Linked DNA regions of Homo sapiens: all the other regions are linked to region 1. The links come from fine-mapping of genetic effects on gene expression. A gene starts in region 1. Each other region holds a variant in brackets. All regions are shown on one strand. Distances are between the middles of the regions.

What was found. PIP is the estimated chance that this variant, and not a neighbour inherited with it, causes the effect. A credible set is the group of variants that fine-mapping cannot tell apart.
Region 2: its variant is the best candidate, but not a certain one, in a credible set for the expression of TENM4 in coronary artery (GTEx, PIP 0.53).
Region 3: its variant is the best candidate, but not a certain one, in a credible set for the expression of TENM4 in monocytes (BLUEPRINT, PIP 0.83).

The regions. Positions count from the first base shown.
Region 1 is chr11:79,435,940-79,444,120 of GRCh38, reverse strand. It overlaps TENM4 (teneurin transmembrane protein 4), which reads left to right and starts at 3,091. Exons shown (of 34, transcript NM_001098816.3): 1 at 3,091-3,612. RefSeq lists silencers at 2,963-3,132, 3,393-3,502.
Region 2 is chr11:78,679,903-78,688,083 of GRCh38, reverse strand. TENM4 (teneurin transmembrane protein 4) reads left to right here. Exons shown (of 34, transcript NM_001098816.3): 29 at 1-30. Among named protein-coding and RNA genes, the nearest start is that of NARS2, 110 kb to the right of the region's middle. The variant A/G (reference allele first, on the strand shown) is at 3,647.
Region 3 is chr11:79,146,556-79,154,736 of GRCh38, reverse strand. It overlaps TENM4 (teneurin transmembrane protein 4), which reads left to right. Exons shown (of 34, transcript NM_001098816.3): 4 at 5,931-6,027. Among named protein-coding and RNA genes, the nearest start is that of TENM4-AS1, 57 kb to the right of the region's middle. The variant A/G (reference allele first, on the strand shown) is at 4,179.

The DNA.
Region 1 (8,181 bases):
GAATCTCCGGTTAGCTATAGAGTTAGATTATAACATGGTAGCAACTGACCTTTTTTCCCCCCTCTAAAATGCTCCCTGAATTCTACTTCCTCCTGAATACTCTTGACATCGCAATGAGTAGTACCACCTTCTATTGAGATACCCAAGCTTGAAAACTGAGTGTCACTTTGGGCTTCTCCTTGCTACCCCCATCCAATCAGAAATCAAAATCATCCTCAATCTCTCTCAAATCTCTCCTCCCTTTTCTGGCTTCATTGCAACTGCCTTAGTTTCCCTAAATGACCTACTTTTTCCTGCCTCTACTCTTCCTAAGTCACCCCAGTTAATCCATTTCTCTACACTGCTGCCAAATCATCTTTTGAAAACACACTCAAGATCACATCCTTCCTCTTCTTAAAAGCCTTTATTAACTGTCTACCCTCCTTCTGCCCCAGTACCTGAACTTTCAGGATGTTTGGATCCTTAGCCTCCTTCAGGCCCTGTCAAAATCCAATCCTAGATGCTAGGGACTCATCTAGACTCCTCCAAGACCCTCCCCCAATATGTCCAACTCTGCTATGAGTGTCTCATGCTTTTGTCCATGTCATCATACTATTGCCTGTACCTAAAAAGCATCTCCCCTCCTTTCACGGTCTAGCTAATTCCTTGCCTTCAAAACTCAGCTCAAGGCCAGGTATGGTAGCTCACACCTATAATCCCAGCACTCTGGGAAGCCTAGGGCAGAGGATTGATGGTATTTGAGACCAGCCTGGGCAACATAGTGAGACCTCATCTGTAAAACAAACAAACAAACAAATAAAATTAGTTTGGCGTGGTGTGGTGGCACATGCCTGTGGTCCCAGCTACTCAAGAGGCTGAGGTGGGAGGATCACCTGAGCTCAGGAGGTTGAGGCTTCAGTGAACCAAGATGGCACCACTGCACTCCAGCCTGGATGACAGAGTGAGAACCTGTCATCTCCTATGGGAAGTCTTCCCTTACTCCCAACAATTCCATTGGGCATCCCTCATGATTAGATTCAGGTTATTCATGTCTACCAGGAATATCACAGAAGTGATATGTCCTTCCCAGTGCACTATATCAGGGGCCACTTGATGTCTATTTGTCACATTCCTGCTAATACTGATTTTAATCACTCAAGGTGGAGTCTTTCAGGTTTTCTATTGAAAAGTTACTATTTTCCCCTTTGAAATTAATCAGTATCATGTGGGCAGATACTTTGAACCTATATATATTTTTTGTTTCTCAACATACTTTCACCCACTACTTTTAGCATCTGGGTCTCATTTTTCTCACTGGTCAAATGAAATGCATAGACTGAAAGTGATTTGCAAAATTATCACTCTCAAAGATCCCTTTCTTATACTCCCTGTCTTGGATCTTCTGTAATGAAAGAATTTGTCCACCAAACCAATGTTACTCCTTCAGGTACATGTGTCTCATTTTCTCAGTGTACATTCATGAAACATGCCTACTGAACTGTAAGCTCAGAAAACAGGGCCTGTTTGTCTCACCACTGAATGCCGAGACCTATCACAGCACCTGCCACAAAGTAGGTGGTCAAGAAATATTTGTTGAAGGACTAAATCTAACTGCCAATCACAGCTGATGCCCAGCATTTGATGTCTGCAGTGAGGACACAAAGTTGATAAATGCTATTCAAAGGCAGAGACTTGACATTTTAGTTAATCTCAGAGGCTTTGTCACTGGTCACTGTACACTTATCATAAAGATTTTAAAAATAGATTGGACAGATTGTGTGGAAACTTCCCACCCACCCCAACCCATCCCTGCCTTTCTGAGATGCCCTAGTTATGAGATGTTGAAGGGGCATTCCAGCACCCCACGTTTATAATCTGTGATGCCTTTATAATCAGCATATGGCAACTGGCTAGACAGTCTCCTCACCACACAGAAGAGTTTTCAAAATAGCCTACCCCTCCTTTCACATTTATGTGAAATTAGCATTGTCACATTTCCTCCTTCATTGACTACTTTAGATCAGAGAGACACACTGTAGCAGAAGATCATGAAGGAAGTTGTCTTAAAGAAGGAAACTAACATAAATTAAGCATCTCATATACACCCAGTGCTTTCTTTCCATTGTTCTCTCTTTTAATCCTCACCAAAACTGGTGAAGTCGGTATCATCCATTTTATAGATGAGAAAACTGAAGCCGGGTAAGGGGAAATGGCTCGCACTAAGTCCTTTAGCCAGCAGGCAGCAGGGCTGGAGTGGGAATTCCTCCAGTCTCTTCCCCAAAGCCCTTCCAAGTTGCCACTCAGTCAAACTACCGCTCTCATCACATAAAAATGCCCTTCTCTTGGAAATGTGCTTGCCATCACGATCCAAACATTCGAGGGACAGAAATCTCTTGGACCGCAATCACTGCTATTTTTTAAGTGATTGTTATCACGACTCAGTAGCTGTTACCATGGTTTTGGGGAAGTTGTCCGAGGAAGGAGGGCCTTTCTTTGGGCATCTTGCATGCCTGAAGAAGGAACTCAAGATCTCAGCTCTTAATTACTCTGATTGTGCTGCAGTAGCAACTTGAAAGAGACCGTCCCTAGAAAAGTGTTGGGGTGGGGGGTGTGGAGTAACATCCAGCGAGCAGGCAGAAGGGAGGCCCTGGGCGCCAGAGAGACCCAGGGAAAGGCGAAGAGGAGGGAGAGGGGACGAGACCGTGCTACGGGGAGCCTGGAGAGAAAGCCAAAGGAGGAGGAAAGAACAAAAGGCAAGAGGAGAGGAAGTACAAGAAAGTCCAGAAAGGAAAAGAGAAAGTTTCAGAAAGGGGAAGAGAAAGCAAGCAAGGAGGGTAAAAGAAGAAAGAGACCAGAAAGATACCGAACTGAGAGAGCTCGGAGAACTCGAGAAAGCAAAGGAGGTAAAAGGAGAGAAGATGGAGAAGGCGGCGGAGAGGAAGGGGGAAGGAGACAGAGGAACCGAGACTGGGGTGAGGGAGCGGCCGCGCGTGGCCCCCGGAGAGGCGCCCATCACCTGCGTGGCGCCCCCCCGCGCCGGAGTGCGGCCCTGCTCCCAGCGCCAGTGCGCCGCGCGGCTCGCCGGCCTCGTAGGATTGGCTACCGCCTCCCATTCATGTAACCTGCGTGTGCGTGTGCGTGTGTGTGTGTGTCTCTCTCTCGCTCGCCCTCTCTTTCTGTGTGTAAGAGAGCGAGGGTGGGGGACGGAGGCAGGCAGGCGAGCAGGCAGGGAGGGGAAGAAGAGAAGGGAAGCTATTAAACACACACACACACACACACACTCACACACGCGCGCGCACACACCCGCCCCAACCCCCCAGAAGCCTCGGGATTGCAGCTGTTTCATGTGGGGCAGCAGTGCTGGCAGGGACGCCGGCCGGGAGCGGCCGGGAGCGGGAGCCGGTCGTGCGCGCGCGGCTGGAGGCTCGCTGGGGCTCCGCTCCCCGCGGGAGCTATTGTTGGTCTCGCTGGAGCTGAGCGCAGAGCCCGGACCTGCTCCTTCCTGGGCGCCCCGCTACGGCTCGCGGAGCAGAGGAGCCGCGCCGCCGAGAGAGAGAGGAGCCACCGGCGCGGCGCCTTGCCTCCCTGCCGCCGTCCTCGCCGCTTCCCCGGCGGTAGCAGCCTGCAGCCACGGTAAGGCGGCGTGATCCGCTCTACGGAAAAGCGCCTTGGGGACCGCGGCGACGCCTCGCCAGCTCCATCGCCCTCTGCACTGCTGGCCCGGGCAGGGTTCGGGTAGCTCACGCGGCTGCCGAGGGCTCCGGGAGATGTTTGCTTGCTCCCCTGGCCCAGGAGGAGGGAGGCTAGGGCGCGGGTGGCCGAAGAGGCAAGCTGTTCTGGAGCCTGGAGCCGCCGCAGCCCCCGGAGCCCGCCGCGGACTGGAGCCTGGGAGCAAGGGTTGGGGGAGGGCAGGGAGGTGGGAAGCGGGTGGGAGGGAGGCGGCGCGCCCCAGGTTCGTCTGCCTCTCCCGGATCCCGTTCCCCGCCCCGGCCCGGTCGCCTGCAGCCCCTCTGCAGACTAGCTCGCCCCAGGCCCCCGTCGGGCGCTGGAGGAGCCCGCGAGGCGGCGCCGGGCTTCAGCGGCTGCAGCCTGCCCTGCGGGGCAAGTGCCGGCTGCAGCAGCCCCGCACGGGCGGTGGTTGGAGCTCAGATCCTGGAGATGCGACCCCAGCTCCTCGCCCTCTGCAACCCGCGGGGCGCCCGCCTCTCCTCACCGGGCGCCCGGCCGCGGTATTGATGTTCGTCTAGGAGCCAACTGAGGCTGCAGCCGCCAGATGGACGCTTGGAGGGCTCCCGGGTGTGAGTGTGACTGTATGACTACTCTCACCCCCAGCTTCGGGAAATGTGCTCTGGGTTGAAATGTGATCACCGAGCTCCTCAGTCATTTTAATTGCCATTTTTAAATGCGGTCGTTACATTGGAGGAGCAGACTGGAAGGTAGTGGGGCGGCGTGTGTGTGTGTGTGTGTGTGTGTGTGTGGACACACACACGCAACCGAGGAATACACAACCAACTACTTGGGTGAAGGGCGGGGGGTTCACCTAGTGAGTCCTTCTTGGCGGGGGGGTCGGGCGAGTTAGCTGCCCGCTGCCCGCCCCTTCTCTGCCTGCCCCCGCCTAGGCGAGGTTGGAAAGTACTGGAAATTCAGCTGCGTGGTCCTTAACTTTGGAAATTGGCTCCGCTTTCAGGGCAAAATGTTAAGGCGATTTATGCACCCGCGTCCATGTGGATGAGTGTATTACTGCTCAGTTGGGTGCAGAGCCCTCAACAGTACCGCGCCAAGCCCCCACCCGATCTCTAACTCCCTCCCACCCCCTAACCGTGGAGAGAGGGTTTATAGAAATGCAGTTATCTGTAAACCATCGACGCAGTGAAAGGGGCGCAGGGAGGCAGCCAGAGTTTTGCCTGAACCTGCATACTGGCTTGGTGTTTGTAGCACACGAGATCACCCCGCTGCTTTGTAGAAGGCGGTGGTGGGGCAAGCTCGGGATTCCAATCGCCGGGGTGGGGGGTGGGGGGAAGAGGGTGCCCATGTACTGAGCTCTGAGGCCGAGTAAGGAGAGAGATCTGCTGAGCGGCATCGCGGGCAATTACATAAGCTGCCTCGGTGATTACCCGGAACTGTGATGCGAGCTCCCGGTTCTCGAAAGACAAGCCTGAAAGTTTGCCTGCTTGGGGAGTGTAAGTACCGGGGCGCCCCCACCCCGGCCTGGGTAGCTAGGATACGCCTCGCACCACGGCGCCCACTTGTGCGATGGGCGTCGGGTGCTGATGCTGCTGTCCCCAAAGAACCGGTTACCGAGGCAGGGACTAAGTGGGGGCATCCGGAATTGATCGCAGAGGAGGAGTCAGTCAGAACTGAGGTTTCATTGGGTCTTCAGAGCTCCAAGTCTTCCCTCGGAGGTGTTGGAAGGCCTTCCAGGGAACGCCGTTTTCAGAAACTGACTTGGTGTCCTGGGGAGCCCCAAAGCCCCTCTTTTCCGCCCTTCCTGGGCGCCCCTCCTTGTCTTTCAAGCCCTGTGCCCTTCACGTGTTTAGAAACCTGCCCGCGGTGCCTGGTCCCCCTTGGAGATGCCCAGGCAGCCCAGCCATCCAGGCCCACGCTGGCGAGGGGTTAGAGGGAGTAGAACGCTGGCTCTGCCGGGCTGCCACCCTTACCTACACCTATTCCTGGTTTCCTGCGCTAGCCCGGCGCTGATGGGGACGGGATGGGGCTGGGGTCGGGTATGGCTTCCGTTCCTTCGCCTCTCGCCTCTGCAGACAGCAGTTTGCTTCTGTTGCGTTTATTCTCCCCGTTTCGCCGCTTCCCTCCAGCGCCGCAGCCTGTGTATCACGTTGATGGGCTTTGATAGAGAAACCACAGTAAGAGTATGCTTTTAAATCTTGATTTTCGTCTGTAGGGGGATAAGCCACCCCAGCCCTGACACAGCCGTGGGGAACGCTGAAGTCTGGGACACATTGGCCCTGAACTCCCTTCCCCCCAGCCCGCAGTCAGGAGATGGTGATGTGCATGGGTGGGGAGTGTTTTGTTTTTGCCACATTCCAGCGTCCTGAAACCTCTCGTCCCCTCCCACTGAAATCCCCGATCTGTCTGAATCTGTTCCTTGCTGTAAAATAAATCCTCCCTCCCGCAGACCTGTGGGGCCCTTCGGATTTCCTGCCGCTGCCATGATCCTTAACAATGCGATTGAAAAGCCAGTGCTCGGCTGGAAAAAAATCCCCAGGTGCCAGCCGGCCGCGCCTTGACCTTGCTGAAGGAGCCTTTAACCCGGCTGCCAGAGGGGCTCTGGTCCAGCCGTGGGAATCCAGGAAGAAGGAGGGCGCCCCGGAGGCGGCTGGGTTAGCTCCCCGGGCAGGGCGGGAATCAGGTCGCGGCGGGGACCGCAGAGGGGGAGGGGACGGGACTCCGCGGCAACCTGTTTCCCGGCGAGCCGGGCCCGCGCATCCCAGCTCCCTCGCCCCAGCCCCTCGTGGCCCGCCTCCCCCGCCGGCCTCCAGTTGTCTTCGTGGTACAGGAGTCGGCCGCGACTCCCTCGCGCTCTCCGCCGGAGTCCGCGGGACGCCGCCAACTTTGGGCTCCTCGGTGGCCGGAGCAGCGGTGCGAACCAGCGGGGCGGCCGGGTGGGCGGGGCCTGGGCGGGAAACTGGAGCCGAGAAGACCGCGTTCCAGGCCAAGTTCCAGCCGCAAGCGCCGCGCGGCACAGTGCAGGGTCCCGGCCGCGCCTTTCTCCCGTCCCCGGCCCGGCCGCGTTCCTGCGGACTCACAGCGCGCTCCGGGCGCTCTGCAGTTGGGCTTTCAGCGGGGGAGCCCTTCTCGTCAAAGTTACGAGGGGTGTTTTCACTGGTGGTGACAGTGGGAACTAGTTTTCTGCGCGCCTGTGTGTGTGTGTGTGCATGTGTTGGGGAGCAGAGAGATTTGCAGCGAAGTCACACATAGCACAAAAAACAGGTTTCCCCTTTCCAGGTGTTATAAGGGAATGCTGAGGAGGAATCCGTTTTCTCCGGTGAGGGTGTTGACGGGAAGCCCTTCCACTTAGTGGAACTGGACCTGTTGGAGCTGATTGCCTGGAGTGAACGGGTGTCTCCTTTAGCGGCACCTGTGTGCCGTAGGTCCTTGGAAATGTTTGGGGAACTGAAAGTCCTCAAGATATTCAGCCAGGACTTAGGGCATAGATGTTTGTGTGCTTTTAGGGGGCTAATTCGGGGAAGCTTTTATTTCCAGCATGTGTCTTGAACTGAGGGGAGGGCAGGGTGCGGAAGGCTTGTGGAATTGCCATCTTCTGTGGTGGGGGAAGGGATCAGGGACGGAGAGCTTTGGTTTTCTAGAAAGAGTTCTTGGGTTCTTCCTCTGCTCTCATCTTGTTTTCATCAAGGCCTCTGTTTGGGGGTGGAGGTAGAGTGGTGCGGTAAGCGGATCAGCCACCCTAATAGACCGGCCTTGACCAGTGCGGATGCCAACGGGCAGAACTAGTGCTTGGTCTGAACAAGAACCATCAAAGGATAGTTCTATAGTGAGTGGAGTGACCTGGAATATGAGGTAGAAGGCTAGGTGTTAGAGTAATGGGTTCCCACGGACTCTCTTCCAATAGAATCTGATTCTATTTGGTATAGTCTCCTCAATCTTTTGTGGTTTTGTGGGAGTAAGGTGATAGGATGTGACTTTAATCTCTTAACTATTGGGTTGGAATCATGGCTCTGTGGCCTTAGGCAAATTGTCTTTGGAGCTTCAGTCCTCTCCCCTGTAAAATGGCACAATATTACTTAGTTTGCAACACTGTCAGGGTTTTTTTTTATGATCCAGTCTATAAACTTTATTCAGATTTTTCCAATTGTCCCAATAACGTCCGTTATAGCAATAGAAAATCCTGGCTTATGAGTTCATTCAGCTTTTCATGTCTCTTTAAACTCTTTTAACCTAGAACATTTCCTCATCTTTTTAAATCTTTCATATTATTGAACACTGTCAGTTTTAACATCGATAAGGCCTCTGGCATACTGTGGTCCCTTCACAGATGCTTGTTCCTTTCTACCTCCTTATCCCCTTCCAGGAAGCATCCTGCATTTGTTGGGTGGAGATTGGGCAGAGAAATCAACAGCCCCGAAAGAACCACCAACCTTGCATCCAGCCTATTTAAAACCAGCTTCAAATGCGTGAAATGAAAATTTCTTTTCTTTTCTTAGGAAAGTCATTTCCAGTTTTGTT
Region 2 (8,181 bases), 760 kb after region 1:
CCTCAGGCGCCTTCTACACACTGCTGCAAGGTAAGTCAGGTGGGGGCCAGGGGACTTTGAGGCAGAGGGGTGGGAAGACCCCTTTGGAGGAGGATGGCACAAGAAATAGGCTGCTGCTGGAGCTGCCCAAGAACAGGAAAGCATTGCAACTCTCTGTATTATCACCTAATTTGCAAAATATACCAGCCTGAGTCAAGTAAATTCCCTCTCAGAAGCTTAAGAATAATATTTTATTGTCCTATCCTGTTATCAGAACAAAGGGTAGGGAATTCATTAGCTGCTAATCCAGGTGACCTCGCTATTCTGCCATCCTAATGACTCCCAGATTAACAGACACACTCACACTGGTGTAGGTGAGGACAAAGGACAAAAATAATTACGCATAATTATGAAAGGGATTTGATTATGGAGAAGTCCTTCCTGAAGCCCAGGTGAGAAGGTTTGTGCCTCTTCTAGGATTTCATAGAAAAGAGACCCTTCTTTGCATTTGTCAAATCATCCTGTTACGGGTTGGTCTTTTAGCTTCAAGTAAAAAGATTTCACAATGATGAAATCTTGCTGTTAATTATCTGCCTCAATTGTTCTCATGGGATGTGGTGACCCAGGTGGGCTTGCAGCTTTGTGGGATTTAGTAAACTTGAAAAGAAAGAAGCCATCACCAGGGAAAGCTCTGCCTGATTCTTTCCTGCCCGCTGGATGGCTCTTTGTACCTCCAAAGGCTTTCACACGAAGCAGTGAAAGGAGCCTCAGGGTAAGAGTCAGAAGCCCAAGTTCTAGTTCTGACTCTGCCACCACATCACCCACCGTGACCCTTGGTTTCTTCTCCAGGAAAAGAAAGCAAGCTGAAGCTGTGTGGAATGGGGTGGAGCAGTGAGAAGAGCAGGGGTTCTGGGTGGGCGATTTGGGGCCCTGTGCCCATCATGCCAGTTCCCACCTGTGTGAACTGGCTGGGGTCACTCTTCTTCTCTGAGCCTTGGTCTCTGGGTCTGGGAAAGGGGGCTGAATTTTAACACCTGCCCCACAGGGCTGCTCAGTCGATCTCTTTAGACAGTGTAGTGACTAGCATGAGCCAAGCACATACTATTGCTCAATAAGCAATACTATTGGATTCCTTAAGTAATTAATTAATTAGCAAGCAGTTTAACTTACCATGAGAAAATAAATGTCTGTATATTCTTACAACCACTTTTACTCCCAAATTTAGTCCTTTGCCTTTCAAAGAGCTCCAAGAACAATAAAGGTTCTCAAAGAAAGAGAAACCACACGCTGGAATTCCTTCTTCACCAAGCACCTTTAACCGTGGTTTTTGAGGAAAACTCAGTGTTTCGTCTGTTCTCACACAATAGTCATCAACAGAAGACTTCTGTGACCAAATATAGGCAGAGGTGGGGTTCTCCCCACCATGAAGCAAGCAATCAACTCTGCAGTGGACACCAGCTGGGTGTCCTTCAACTCAATTCCAACACTATCTACCTGGAGATGGCCTCAAATCCCACCGGTTGAGGGCTCAGTCCCCAAAACTGCCCCCCCAACCCCACCCCATCTATCATACTTCAGACACCAGTCACAAGTCTGGGCCTCTGGAACTTCTATCTGACTGGCTTCTAGTTGAGATTTTCATGACTGCTTCTTTGGGTTCAGTTAATTTACTGGAACAGCTCACAGGACTAGAGAAATACTTACATTTACCAGTTGATCATAAAGGACATTACCAAGGGTATAGACGAAGAGATGTATATGACAAGATATAGGGTAAGGGGCGTGGGGCTTTCACACCCTCCCCAGGCACATCACCTTCACCCCTCCATGGACCTCCGTATGTTCAGCTCCCCAAACTCTGTCTTCTTGGGCCTTTTAGGAAGCCTTCATTGGATAGGCATGATTGACAACCATGTAGAAATGTGATCGGACCCAGCAAGGCCTGTCTCTTCAGATTCTTCTTGGCCTCTCTGTGCAGCACTCATTCCTTCCTCCAGGGTATGGAGCAGGATCCCCTCTGAAAGTACGTCTTATGACCCACAGTCAGATTAGAGTCCTGCCTTGGAGAGGAGGGCAGGAGAAGGTCAGAGAGAGAGGCAGAGAGATTGTTTCCTAAGGCCTGCTTCTGAGTCCTGAAGTGCCTCAACATTAGAACCAAAGACTATGAGAAGGGGTATAGGAGTTATGAGCTGGGAACTGTGGATATATAATCATAATATCACAAGTGGGTTGGGACAGACCCCAGGGATTTATGCTCTGACTGGATTATTGCCAAGAGAAGGTACAATTTCTGAGGCAGCCAAGATCTTGCCTGACCAAGGACTGCAGGACCACCAATTACTCAGACATCTTGTCCTTCAGGCCTGTCTTGTTCCCTGTGATTAAGAATTATCCATCCATTCCATACTGCTAAACTGGCTGTGAGTATTTTTCTCAAAGGTTCATGTGGGCTTTCTTATATTTGGGCAACTTTTTAAAATTTGAAAGTGCCACATTCCTCAGTTTTTAAATGTATTCATCAATTTAATAACTTTTTAGGCAGAGGGAAAAAAGTCATACTGCTCAAAAGGCATACGTGGACACATTCCAATTTCAAAAAAACATTAAAATATGAAAAGAAAAATCACTTCTTGGAATCCAGGAAACATGGTACCTGTTTTTCCTCTTTGGTAGCTCTGCCAAGCTCTTTCCTTCTTGAGTACCAGGCTCAGATGCTCAGTTTTGCAGCTGCCTCACTAGAGTCTCTGTGAAAAGCTCTTTCGGTTTCATCTTCTGTTTAAACTGTGGAAAGTAATAAGAAGTAGCTGCTAATGAGCAGCGGCCTTGGGAAGTCACAGCCCACATTAAATGGGATCATCTGAGATGGGCCTCTACAGATGCTGTTCCCTCCAAGTCACCATTAATGGACATATGTGGATTCAGCAAGGAGCAGCTTTAAAGGATAAATTGACACAGGCTTTTTCACTGTTCAAAGGCAGAAAAATATAGATTGTCAGTGAATAATGCATAGCAAGTTTGAGGCAGATTTTAGAATTTTTGCATGTGTGAGAGAGAAAGATGGAGAGAGGAGGGAGTGGGGGGGGCCTGTTTGAAGCCATTCTAGCAGAAAATATTCAGTGAGGGTTTCCCATGAAAACTATTGCTTAATAACTATCTTTAGTTCTTGACATAGCCTGGAACATAACTAGTTTCATCCAGCAAAAATTTACTGAGCACATATAATCCTAACGATGATGATAGCTAACATTTTTGGAGCACTTATTAACTGCAAAGCATATTTTCAGCATTTTACATTAAGCAGTACCTCATAAGGTACCTCATATAGTACCGCATATGCCTAGGAGGTAAGTATTATTGTCTCTGTTTTCTGCATGAAGGCAGTGAGAAGCACTCGGAGGTTAGGTAGCTTGCCCCAGTCACACACCTAATTGGGTGTTTGGACCCAGGCAAACAGGCTCTATAGAACCTATTCTCTTAACTGCCAATCTAAAGACAAGGGGCCCTATTCCAGGACCATGGTCAGCACTAGAGAAGTTCACCATGATGTGTGTGTGTGTGTCTGTGTGTATGTGTGTTTGTGAGAGAGAGAGAAATGGGATGGTGGAGATAGAGGAGAGACAAGAGACACACATGACAGTGACTAGCACAGTGCCAGGCACATAAAACC[A/G]GTGACAGCTAACATTTACATAACACTATATGCCAAGTACAGTTCTCAGCTCTTCATATTCATGATCTCACTCAATCCTCAGAGCATCCTGCAAAGCAGGGTACAATTATTGTCCTAGTGTACTGATGAAGTACCAGAGGCATGGAAGGTTAAGAATTTGGCCAAGGTCTTACAGCAAGGCAGCCACAGAGCTGGAACCTGAGCTGAAGTAGCCTGGCTGCAAAGCCAAGCTCCTAATCTCTGTGCCATAGTGCCTCTCACAGCACGCACTCAAATATTGGAGAATTTGTTCATTAACGGAGCAGTGACTCCCACACCCCTCAGCTGCAAGACCACTGAGGAGGCCCATAGAAAGGCTGAGGGGTGTACAGGACAGGGAGTCATACATTCTGGCCAGTGGAACAGGGGAAGCTTCTGGAAAGAGATGACATTTTAGCAGAGCCTGGAGGGAGTCTTAAGCCAGCACTTACTGAAGACGGGGGCAGTGCAGAGGAAACAGCCAAGGAAGGGCCAGAGACAGGAGAGTGCAGCACAAATCCAGAGATAGTATTTTCATCTATAGAAAGAAACTCTATGTGTATTTTACAGCTGAAATTTGCTTTTTTCACCGTAAGTTTCATTTAGTTAAGAATCTAGGGAGGAGCCAAGATGGCCGAATAGGAACAGCTCCGGTCTACAGCTCCCAGCGTGAGCGACGCAGAAGATGGGTGATTTCTGCATTTCCATCTGAGGTACCGGGTTCATCTCACTAGGGAGTGCCAGACAGTGGGCGCAGGCCAGTGTGTGCGCGCACCGTGCGCGAGCCGAAGCAGGGCGAGGCATTGCCTCACCTGGGAAGCGCAAGGGGTCAGGGAGTTCCCTTTCCGAGTCAAAGAAAGGGGTGACGGACGCACCTGGAAAATCGGGTCACTCCCACCCGAATATTGCGCTTTTCAGACCGGCTTAAGAAACGGCGCACCACGAGACTATATCCCACACCTGGCTCAGAGGGTCCTACGCCCACGGAATCTCGCTGATTGCTAGCACAGCAGTCTGAGATCAAACTGCAAGGCGGCAACGAGGCTGGGGGAGGGGCGCCCGCCATAGCCCAGGCTCGCTTAGGTAAACAAAGCAGCCGCGAAGCTCGAACTGGGTGGAGCCCACCACAGCTCAAGGAGGCCTGCCTGCCTCTGTAGGCTCCACCTCTGGGGGCAGGGCACAGACAAACAAAAAGACAGCAGTAACCTCTGCAGACTTAAGTGTCCCTGTCTGACAGCTTTGAAGAGAGCAGTGGTTCTCCCAGCACGCAGCTGGAGATCTGAGAACGGGCAGACTGCCTCCTCAAGTGGGTCCCTGACCCCTGACCCCCGAGCAGCCTAACTGGGAGGCACCCCCCAGCAGGGGCACACTGACACCTCACACGGCAGGGTATTCCAACAGACCTGCAGCTGAGGGTCCTGTCTGTTAGAAGGAAAACTAACAACCAGAAAGGACGTCTACACCGAAAACCCATCTGTACATCACCATCATCAAAGACCAAAAGTAGATAAAACCACAAAGATGGGGAAAAAACAGAACAGAAAAACTGGAAACTCTAAAACGCAGAGCGCCTCTCCTCCTCCAAAGGAACGCAGTTCCTCACCAGCAACAGAACAAAGCTGGATGGAGAATGATTTTGACGAGCTGAGAGAAGAAGGCTTCAGACGATCAAATTACTCTGAGCTACGGGAGGACATTCAAACCAAAGGCAAAGAAGTTGAAAACTTTGAAAAAAATTTAGAAGAATGTATAACTAGAATAACCAATACAGAGAAGTGCTTAAAGGAGCTGATGGAGCTGAAAACCAAGGCTCGAGAACTACGTGAAGAATGCAGAAGCCTCAGGAGCCGATGCGATCAACTGGAAGAAAGGGTATCAGCAATGGAAGATGAAATGAATGAAATGAAGCGAGAAGGGAAGTTTAGAGAAAAAAGAATAAAAAGAAATGAGCAAAGCCTCCAAGAAATATGGGACTATGTGAAAAGACCAAATCTACGTCTGATTGGTGTACCTGAAAGTGATGTGGAGAATGGAACCAAGTTGGAAAACACTCTGCAGGATATTATCCAGGAGAACTTCCCCAATCTAGCAAGGCAGGCCAACGTTCAGATTCAGGAAATACAGAGAACGCCACAAAGATACTCCTCGAGAAGAGCAACTCCAAGACACATAATTGTCAGATTCACCAAAGTTGAAATGAAGGAAAAAATGTTAAGGGCAGCCAGAGAGAAAGGTCGGGTTACCCTCAAAGGAAAGCCCATCAGACTAACAGCGGATCTCTCGGCAGAAACCCTACAAGCCAGAAGAGAGTGGGGGCCAATATTCAACATTCTTAAAGAAAAGAATTTTCAACCCAGAATTTCATATCCAGCCAAACTAAGCTTCATAAGTGAAGGAGAAATAAAATACTTTATAGACAAGCAAATGCTGAGAGATTTTGTCACCACCAGGCCTGCCCTAAAAGAGCTCCTGAAGGAAGCGGTAAACATGGAAAGGAACAACCGGTACCAGCCGCTGCAAAATCATGCCAAAATGTAAAGACCATCGAGACTAGGAAGAAACTGCATCAACTAACGAGCAAAATCGCCAGCTAACATCATAATGACAGGATCAAATTCACACATAACAATATTAACTTTAAATATAAATGGACTAAATTCTGCAATTAAAAGACACAGACTGGCAAGTTGGATAAAGAGTCAAGACCCATCAGTGTGCTGTATTCAGGAAATCCATCTCACGTGCAGAGACACACATAGGCTCAAAATAAAAGGATGGAGGAAGATCTACCAAGCCAATGGAAAACAAAAAAAGGCAGGGGTTGCAATCCTAGTCTCTGATAAAACAGACTTTAAACCAACAAAGATCAAAAGAGACAAAGAAGGCCATTACATAATGGTAAAGGGATCAATTCAACAAGAGGAGCTAACTATCCTAAATATTTATGCACCCAATACAGGAGCACCCAGATTCATAAAGCAAGTCCTCAGTGACCTACAAAGAGACTTAGACTCCCACACATTAATAATGGGAGACTTTAACACCCCACTGTCAACATTAGACAGATCAACGAGACAGAAAGTCAACAAGGATACCCAGGAATTGAACTCAGCTCTGCACCAAGCAGACCTAATAGACATCTACAGAACTCTCCACCCCAAATCAACAGAATATACATTTTTTTCAGCACCACACCACACCTATTCCAAAATTGACCACATAGTTGGAAGTAAAGCTCTCCTCAGCAAATGTAAAAGAACAGAAATTATAACAAACTATCTCTCAGACCACAGTGCAATCAAACTAGAACTCAGGATTAAGAATCTCACTCAAAGCCGCTCAACTACATGGAAACTGAACAACCTGCTCCTGAATGACTACTGGGTACATAACGAAATGAAGGCAGAAATAAAGATGTTCTTTGAAACCAACGAGAACAAAGACACCACATACCAGAATCTCTGGGACGCATTCAAAGCAGTGTGTAGAGGGAAATTTATAGCACTAAATGCCTACAAGAGAAAGCAGGAAAGATCCAAAATTGACACCCTAACATCACAATTAAAAGAACTAGAAAAGCAAGAGCAAACACATTCAAAAGCTAGCAGAAGGCAAGAAATAACTAAAATCAGAGCAGAACTGAAGGAAATAGAGACACAAAAAACCCTTCAAAAAATCAATGAATCCAGGAGCTGGTTTTTCGAAAGGATCAACAAAATTGATAGACCGCTAGCAAGACTAATAAAGAAAAAAAGAGAGAAGAATCAAATAGACACAATAAAAAATGATAAAGGGGATATCACCACCGATCCCACAGAAATACAAACTACCATCAGAGAATACTACAAACACCTCTACGCAAATAAACTAGAAAATCTAGAAGAAATGGATACATTCCTCGACACATACACTCTCCCAAGACTAAACCAGGAAGAAGTTGAATCTCTGAATAGACCAATAACAGGCTCTGAAATTGTGGCAATAATCAATAGTTTACCAACCAAAAAGAGTCCAGGACCAGATGGATTCACAGCCGAATTCTACCAGAGGTACAAGGAGGAACTGGTACCATTCCTTCTGAAACTATTCCAATCAATAGAAAAAGAGGGAATCCTCCCTAACTCATTTTATGAGGCCAGCATCATTCTGATACCAAAGCCGGGCAGAGACACAACCAAAAAAGAGAATTTTAGACCAATATCCTTGATGAACATTGATGCAAAAATCCTCAATAAAATACTGGCAAACCGAATCCAGCAGCACATCAAAAAGCTTATCCACCATGATCAAGTGGGCTTCATCCCTGGGATGCAAGGCTGGTTCAATATACGCAAATCAATAAATGTAATCCAGCATATAAACAGAGCCAAAGACAAAAACCACATGATTATCTCAATAGATGTAGAAAAGGCCTTTGACAAAATTCAACAACCCTTCATGCTAAAAACTCTCAATAAATTAGGTATTGATGGGACGTATTTCAAAATAATAAGAGCTATCTATGACAAACCCACAGC
Region 3 (8,181 bases), 290 kb after region 1:
AAACTCCTTCCTCTGAGGGGCCAAGGAGCTCTCCTGCAAGTGAGTAAGGCTAAGCTGAGAGCTGAAGGGGAAGAGGGGACTCCCAGCCTTGGGGACGGCACTTACTCCTTGAGCATAATTACCTGAAAGATGCCTGGTTTGGATGGAGCTGGGGGAACAAGGGGCCCTGATGGGAACATAACATCAGCAGGGGGTCAGGGGACAAAGTAGACATGTAATGTTTATTTAAGAGTGGTATGGTTTGGATGTTTTGTTCCCTCCAAATCTCATGTTGAAATGTGACCTCCAGTGTTGGAGGTGGGCCTAGTGGGAGGTGTTTGGGACATGGGGACAGATCTGTCATGAATGGTTTGGTGCTCTCTTCATGGTAATGAGTGAGTTCTCACTCTATGAGTTTATGTGAGATCTGGTTGTTTAGAAGAACATGGCACCTCCTCTCTCTCTCTCACTCCCTCTCTTGCCATGTGATGTGCTGGCTCCCTTTCTCCTTCCCCGATGATTGGAAGCTTCCTGAGGCCCTCACCAGAAGCAGATGCCAACACTATGCTTCCTGTACAGCCTGCAGAACCATGAGCCAATTAAACCTCTTTTTTTTTAATTACCCAACATCAGGTATTCCTTTATAGCAACACAAAAGCCAACTAGCACAAGCAGCAAGAGGAAGCTCTTGAGGAGCTTGAACAAGGGGTGACATAAGCCTTCAGGTTTTTGCACTGTTTTTAAAACTTTTCACACCCAGTGTTTTTGAGTCTGAAAGCAATCTGGTAAGGCAGTGAGTTTGGGGTTCTTGTCCTAACCTGACAGATCAGAAAACTGAAGTCCTTCCAAAATGGATGACTTACCTTACCTAAGATCACTAAGAATTGAACGAGTGAGAGGATGAGGGTCTAAGTCTTCCTGCTCAGGGGCTGGTTGAAGAATCAGAGAGAAGAAAGGGGGCCTCGTAGACCCACACACAGCATGAGCAATGGTATAACATGGTGTCAGGGGAACCTTGCATGGTTTGGAGAAGAGCCCCAGTGTGAAAGGACCCAGCACTGTGCCTCGTACATGGCAGATGCTCAGAAAACTACCCTTCCCCTTCTTTCAGCCGCAAGAACCACTGCTTCGGTTTCCCACACTGCCTGGCCACCATCATGCCACCTTCTAGGTTAAGGGGTGTTTGGGCAGATACTTGGTTTTGGTAGGGGTGTGAGAGAAGGGAGACAGGTTGTCTTGTGCTCCTTACCCAAGTCGGGATCCATCTTTCCTAGCTCTGATTGTTCTGCTGGGTGACTTGCCTCTGCCCAGACACCGTGCAAGGAAACATGAGAAGAAAATTTCCCAGGATTTCTGCTGCTCTGCCCCTGGCCCTTGCTGCAATGTTCTACAGTGCTTTGGTCAGAAAAAGTCCTCATCAGAATGATCTGCTTTGGACATGTATTCACACAAGAAGAATCATCTAATATTCATTTACAAAATCCTTTTCATACATTTTTCTCATTTAATCCCCATAACAATCTTGTGAGGTAGTTACTCATTACTGACATTTTATAAAAGGGTTTTGAATTGGTTGTTATTCATGGCACACATAACAAACCAAAACCTGAGCACAGGTCCTCTCTGACCCCAGTCTAGTCATCTTCTAGCTTCGTGACAAGTGTCTATCTTGGTATCATCCTTTAGTACTGCCTATTCAGAGACATCACAACAAACTTTCCCCGCAGTAAGGCAAGTGATGGAAAGCCATTCTAAAAATGTGCCCAGAATCTTTAGAAGAACAAACATCCATGTAATTAGTCTTTGGTATGTTTTGTTCAGTGTATACCTTTCTTCTGCATCAGTTTAAGGTTGGCAGCTCTTCTGTCCTCTTGATGAATGCCGTTGGGTTTTCCTGTGCATTGAAAAGGTGAGTTTGGACATCTTCCTGCTCACTAAAAGGATGAACATTGACCATTTTGGGAGGCTATGTCCAGGAAGTCATGCTTCAGGGAGCCCAGAGCTCAGAATTGCAGTTCCTTCTCTTTGCATATCCATTGGACATCAGTAGAGGGCTGCCAGCCAGCACAAACACTGTGGCATTGGAAGGGGTTGGAGGAATGCAGCTGGCTCCCAGCCCCTTGTTTTCCCGTTCCACTGGAAGGTTGTGTTCATTCGAGCTTTTAAACCAAAAATAAATTGTTGTAATCCATTTGCTAATTATACCATGCTAAAGTTCTAGACGCTGTAAATTACAGCCATGATATATCTAGATGAAGTTTCTGGGAGTTTATTTTTAGCCATCCAGAAAGCACTCAGTTTCCTAGAGGCTTCATTTGCAAGTCTAGGAGGGAACAGGGAAAATGCATCTGCACAACCTTTCTTGGCCTATGACCTGGAGACGATGAACCTCTCCGGTTCTCCTCTGTAAAAGAAAGTGGTTGTAGCCGTTCACTTTGAAGGTCTTGTCTATCTTCAAAGCTCTAACTCTCATTTTCTGACTAAGCAAAGTAGAATGTAGCCAAACATGGGTTTTCAGTTCCTGGTTGATCATGGAGAATATCAAAAGCCACCACACCAACATATTAATATTTGTGAACCATGGAACACAGATCTTCAGAAACCTCAGGCTCAATGGACACATTGCGTTTCTTTTCTAGTCCTCAATTTTGAGGAGTGGAGAGAGGATGGAAGGATTTTATGTTTATTTAGCACGTACTCTTTGCATAATACACTGCTTGGTGCTTGCATTTGAGTGATATTTGGATGGCCTTCTCCATTCAAGGACAATGTCATCTAATTTTAATCAATCAGTCACTCATTGACATCTGTGTGCCAGCCACTGGGGTTGGTTCTGAAAATATCTAGGGTAAATTAGATGCATCTCTTACCTCCAAGGAGACAGGAGGTGGAGATAAAGCATGCAATGAAAATGTTGAAGTGCTTTTTGAAATGCACTATTATCTACAAATGATTAAATACCAAGTGCCAGCAGAGAGAACACAGAGAGATACATTGTGAGGGGTAGGGGGAGTGTCTAGGTTCATCTGTGCCTGTTGGGGGAGGAGAATCAGGGAAGACTTCAGGGATAATGAGGTATTTGAGCCAGGGATGATATGTAAATATGATTTTAAAATGTGGGGATTGGGTAAGGGAAATTGGACAGATCTAGTTTAGTAACCTCGGAAAGCGCCCCGGCCAGGTCCCATGGATGACTGTCCTTGACCAGTCATTAACACATGACACACAGAGCACATCTCTTCCCCAAACACCACAACTTCTAGCAAGTTTTCTTCAATTTTGACCATAGTATGATTATTTTTTCAAAGAGTCAACATAAAAAATCCTTTGGAACAATTCCTTTGTCTGGATGCTTCTTGTGTTTAGACTTCTAGATAAGCAATCTTCTACTATACTTGTGTAATTCTTGGGTGGAGAGATGGATGCATGGTCAGATGGATGAATGGATGGTTTCATATCATTGTAGAGCTGCCACAGCAAAGAGATGGAAGCAGTGAAACTGGTTTGGCTCGCTAATAGCTTTGTGGGAAGAGCTGAGCTTTAAACAATAAACAGAATTTTCTCAGCACACAGTATGGATAAAGGCCTTCCCTTCAGAGGGAAGCAAAATGAGAGCATGAAATCCATGACATCGTGGAAGAATGGTGAGTCACAGAAGCCATGGTATAGGAAGGCAGGATGAGTTAATGTAGTGGCTGAGAGCACAGGCTATGATTGGATGGACTGCGGTTTGAATCCCTGTTCTGCCACATAGTAGCTGAGTGATCCTGGGCAAATTAGGTCACTTTTCCAAGCTTCTATTTTCTCATCTGTAAAATAGGAATATTAATAATGTCTACCTCGTGTGGTTATTGTGAAGATTAAGTAGAATAAAATAATGTTTAGCACAGTGATTGGTATGCCCTTAATAAAGTGTAGTTTATGGTTATTATTTTATAAAAAAACACTTCTAATTAAATTATGAAAATGCCCATTCAAACCACAGAATTTGTGAAGGAGTCAGAGAAAGTCCTTGGGGGGAAAGAAGAACCAGGAGAAACTGGTGTTGCTGATATGGAGGCAGGAATTTCTAGAGGGAAGGGGTCCCTGCTAGCAAATGACCCAGAGAGGCCACTGCAGATTGAGAAGAAGTGTCTGGAATATGCAGTGACAACATCCCTATGATCTTAAAGAAAGAGGCTGAAAGCCACAAGGCAACG[A/G]TTTGTGAAGAGTGTGGGAGTGGAGGAAGTGGTGGTCTAGATGACTCTTTCAGGAAATCTCTCTGAAAAGGAGAAAAGGAACTTGGGGGCAGGACAGGGGACAAGGTCATGGGAAGGGCTGTTTGCTAGATGAAGAAATTTGAACTCAACACAGTGTTTTTTGACCTTTCTAAACTCATGCCTGCTTTGATAGACATAAACATCACTCTCCCCTGCAAGACTGATGTTCTGGCACCCAAGACCTAACACCAGGCTTATTTGAGAGCCACATCTGCCAGGAGGATTTTGTCAGGATTTACTTTCTGTGCTGTATTTTTAAAACAGTAGGAATTTAATGATCTGTGAGAACCAAGCAGGTAAGAAATGATGGAGGCATTGTAGGTCATAACAAGGATGGATTTGAAAGATGATAAGAAGGCTGAACCGAGCAGGAGTGAGGAGTGAGGGGCAGAGGCGAGTCAGAGGGATCCTGGGGTTCTGGCATTGAGGACTGAATAAATCACTGCACCAACTGGTGTGTGTCCTTTTTCTTTGTGGGTTCCCACCTCTACCTGCCTAGGTGACATTATACAGGTTTAAGACCAAATAACAGACGTGGTCATTGTTTAGAAACTTTTAAGTACTTTATCAGTGTAGGGCATTGTTAGTGATACTGTTATAAAGAAAAAAGAGCATACCTTGATCTTTCCTTGTGCACTGTGTCTTTGTCAGTGAGTATAATTTTAAATGGTGTGAGGGAACTAATGTGTATTGCTCACATACCTTATTACAGGTGAGGAAATGGAGATGCAGAAACATTTAAAGAAAGCCAGCCCAAGATCAACCCGACAGCCAGAGAATGCACACTCTTTCTAAGCACATATAAAACACTCACGAAAGTGGACTGTATCCTAGGCCGTAAAATACAATCCAGTAAATTTCAAGGAGTCAGTATCCTACAGACCATATTCACCTACCACAGTGCAATTAAGTTAGAACTCAGTAACAGAAAGATGAGATGTTTTTTAAAAACCTATATTGAGATATATTTATAAAAATACTTCCAACTAACTCTCAGATCAAAAAGAAATGATAACAGAAATTATAAAATGATTATAAATGAATGACCAAAGAAATATTAAATATCAAAAGTTGTGGAATATAGCCAAGACAGCACTTAGAGAGAAATTTATCACCTTAAATGCTTATATTAAAAAAGAAGAGCTGAAAATTAATGAATGGGTTAAGTATCCAATTTAGGAACAACAGCAAATATAAGTAAATAAACCAGCCCAGAGTTGTGCAGTCAGAAGTGGTGGGGCCAGGATTTGGGCATAGCTATGGCTGGCTCAAATCCCTCACTCTCTTTACTCCACTGGTACCTTTCTCTGTGCTGCTTTCCATTATATGCCCAGTACCTGGAGATTCTCTCTCCCTAAGAGTTGAAGAGATGAGGCTACAAAGTAACTCCCTGCATGAAAGCTTGATGATAAATCCCACTCATTTTCTCAGCCATCCTTTTACTTGTCCATCAACTACTTAATGAGCATTTGCCATGTGCCAGGCACTGTGCTAGTAGCTACTTTAGTTGCATCTTTCCTCTGAGCGTTCAAACACTAGACTTCAGCTTGGGACCAAAGCTCATACTGCTGCTACTAATGCCCATGCCCACGTCTCACCCCCACCTCCCAAGCTGCCAGAATCTTCTCTACTGCTTATCAGAACAGCATCCTCATCAAAAATGACTGATTTGTCTCTTGTCTCTTTCAACAGGTAGACTGAAATTACCATGTGTCCAAATTAAAATTGCATACTTCAAGGATTATTTGAAGGACTATTCTTAGACCCTTTTAAGAAGATTTAAAGAAAAGTGAGTTGATTTTTTTTACACTTCAGAGAGTATTCATGATTTAAGTTAATGTTATGGGTTCTTTTTTTCTCTACCTCTTAAATATGCATTAATAGGTAGACTTTATCTTCATTTATTTTACAATAAAGATTTTTTTTTCCCTAAGAACAATGAACAAAGAGTGCAGGATTACTGCTTGCCTTCCCTGCAAGATTTTTATATGTTTCAAAGGCTTGTGGAATCTTAGAGATAAAAGGGTTTTAGAGGTACGGACCATTCCCTCCTGGATGCTGGGAAACCCACAACAGCATCTCTATAGATCCCTGGCCTGTTCTTGGAAACTTGCAGGGACTGGTTTGGAGGTTGGTATCTCCCCACACTTAGGATTTTTGTAGAGCTCTCCCATAATCTGGACTTGAAATTCACTCCACGTCTTGCCAAGTCTCTTTCTTCTCTACTAGACATCCTAAAATAGGTGAATGTAAACAGCATGTCCCTCCTCAAGATCTTTTCTTGTTATTTGTTCCTCCAATCATTTCTCATAAGTTGGTTTCAAGAGCAGCTCCCACCCTGGTCACTTGGAATACAGACAGAGCACCTCCAGTGATCTTTGCCCAGTATATGGATGAGAATCAAAGCAGGGTAAACCCAAAGAGCAGGCCTGGGTTCAGCCCCAGTTCTACTCTTGTTGTGTTTTCAGGAAAGTCACTTCATCATTCTGAGCTTGGTGAAAACAAGGAAGGTAGGAAGAGATAGTCACTACCATGCCTCTGACCTCCACTTGGATCGTTTTGCTGACTCAGAGTAAAGAAGTTGCTGCTTCTTACCATCTCAGGCACTGGAATGGGCCAGGTCTTGGGAATCCATGGAATCTGGGTCCAATCCAAGCCCTATCACTTGCTGACTATGTGGCCATAGACTGCCATTTCTCATCTCTGATCATCTGTTTCCTCATTTGTTAAATGAGGATGCCAATAAATGTTGCAAAGGGTTGCGTGAGGATGTACTGAGATAATGTACATAAAGCACCTAGTACCTGGTACATAGAAAGTGTTCAAAACATGGCAGTTGCTAGTATGATTATAAGTAATGGCAGAACTACTTACCTTTAGCCAGAGGAGAAGATAGGAGGTGCTAGAGACTCTCATAAGGAGAGAAAAGAACGGGCATACTCATTAGGGATACAGTAGTGTTCACATCTCATAAACTCTCATGCAAACATAAGCCCAACCTCAGAAAATTCATGAGGTTAAAACTCTACTTCTCAGAGTCAGACAAGGATGATGGGTTGCTATGGAAATATACAGTTAAAAGGGAAATTTTAGAGTGGGTCCGAGAAGCTGCACAAATCCTGCCAATCTCTCACTGATGCCATAGCCCCGGTCCTAGATGGTAAGGATTAGAGCCCCCCAGAATGAAGGTCCTTAAACACACAGACTGGGAGGCCTGCAAATCATCAAATATTTATATATGTTCAGAAGGCTGGTGGTGAGTGTTGGATGAGAGATTGAGTGTTTTGTAAACTGTAAAGTTTCCTACAAATATATGTGCCTTTGTGTGATTCATGTATTATGGACTGTATCAATACTTTGCAAATCAGAAGAAAGGGGGGAACTCAGATGAGCTGACTGTGTAATGAACCTGTAGAGTCCAGCCCCACTGATTTCTGAGTGAAATAGCATATACGTATGCATGCATGTACATATCTGTATACACACGTCTATGCATGTGTGTGCATGCACACGTGTGTGTTTGTGCATATGTGTGTGAATCTTTGACCCTTTGGAGGTAGTCACCACTCTTTATCCAGTGACTGGCTGCCTCTAAGGAGTATAACAGAGGAATGAAAACACAGGCTATGGTGTCAGTCAGCCTAGCTCTATAACTTACAAGTTATGTGGCCTTGGTCACATTATTTGATAAGAGTGGTACAGTTTTCGCCTTCCTGGAGCTGAAAGTCTGTGGATAGGGCTGCTCTCAGGAGCTGGGAGGATGCAGCATAGGATGTATCTCTCACACCAAGAAAGTGCTTAGGATATGGGAGAGTCTTTCTCCCTTGGTTAGTGGCTTTTTTCTGTTTGTTTTTCTCAGAGTTTAGGGAATGTTGTGTTAACTCGTTAGATAAAAGGAACCTCTGAAGGTATCTTTGGTTCCATAAGACCATGCCCCTGAAGA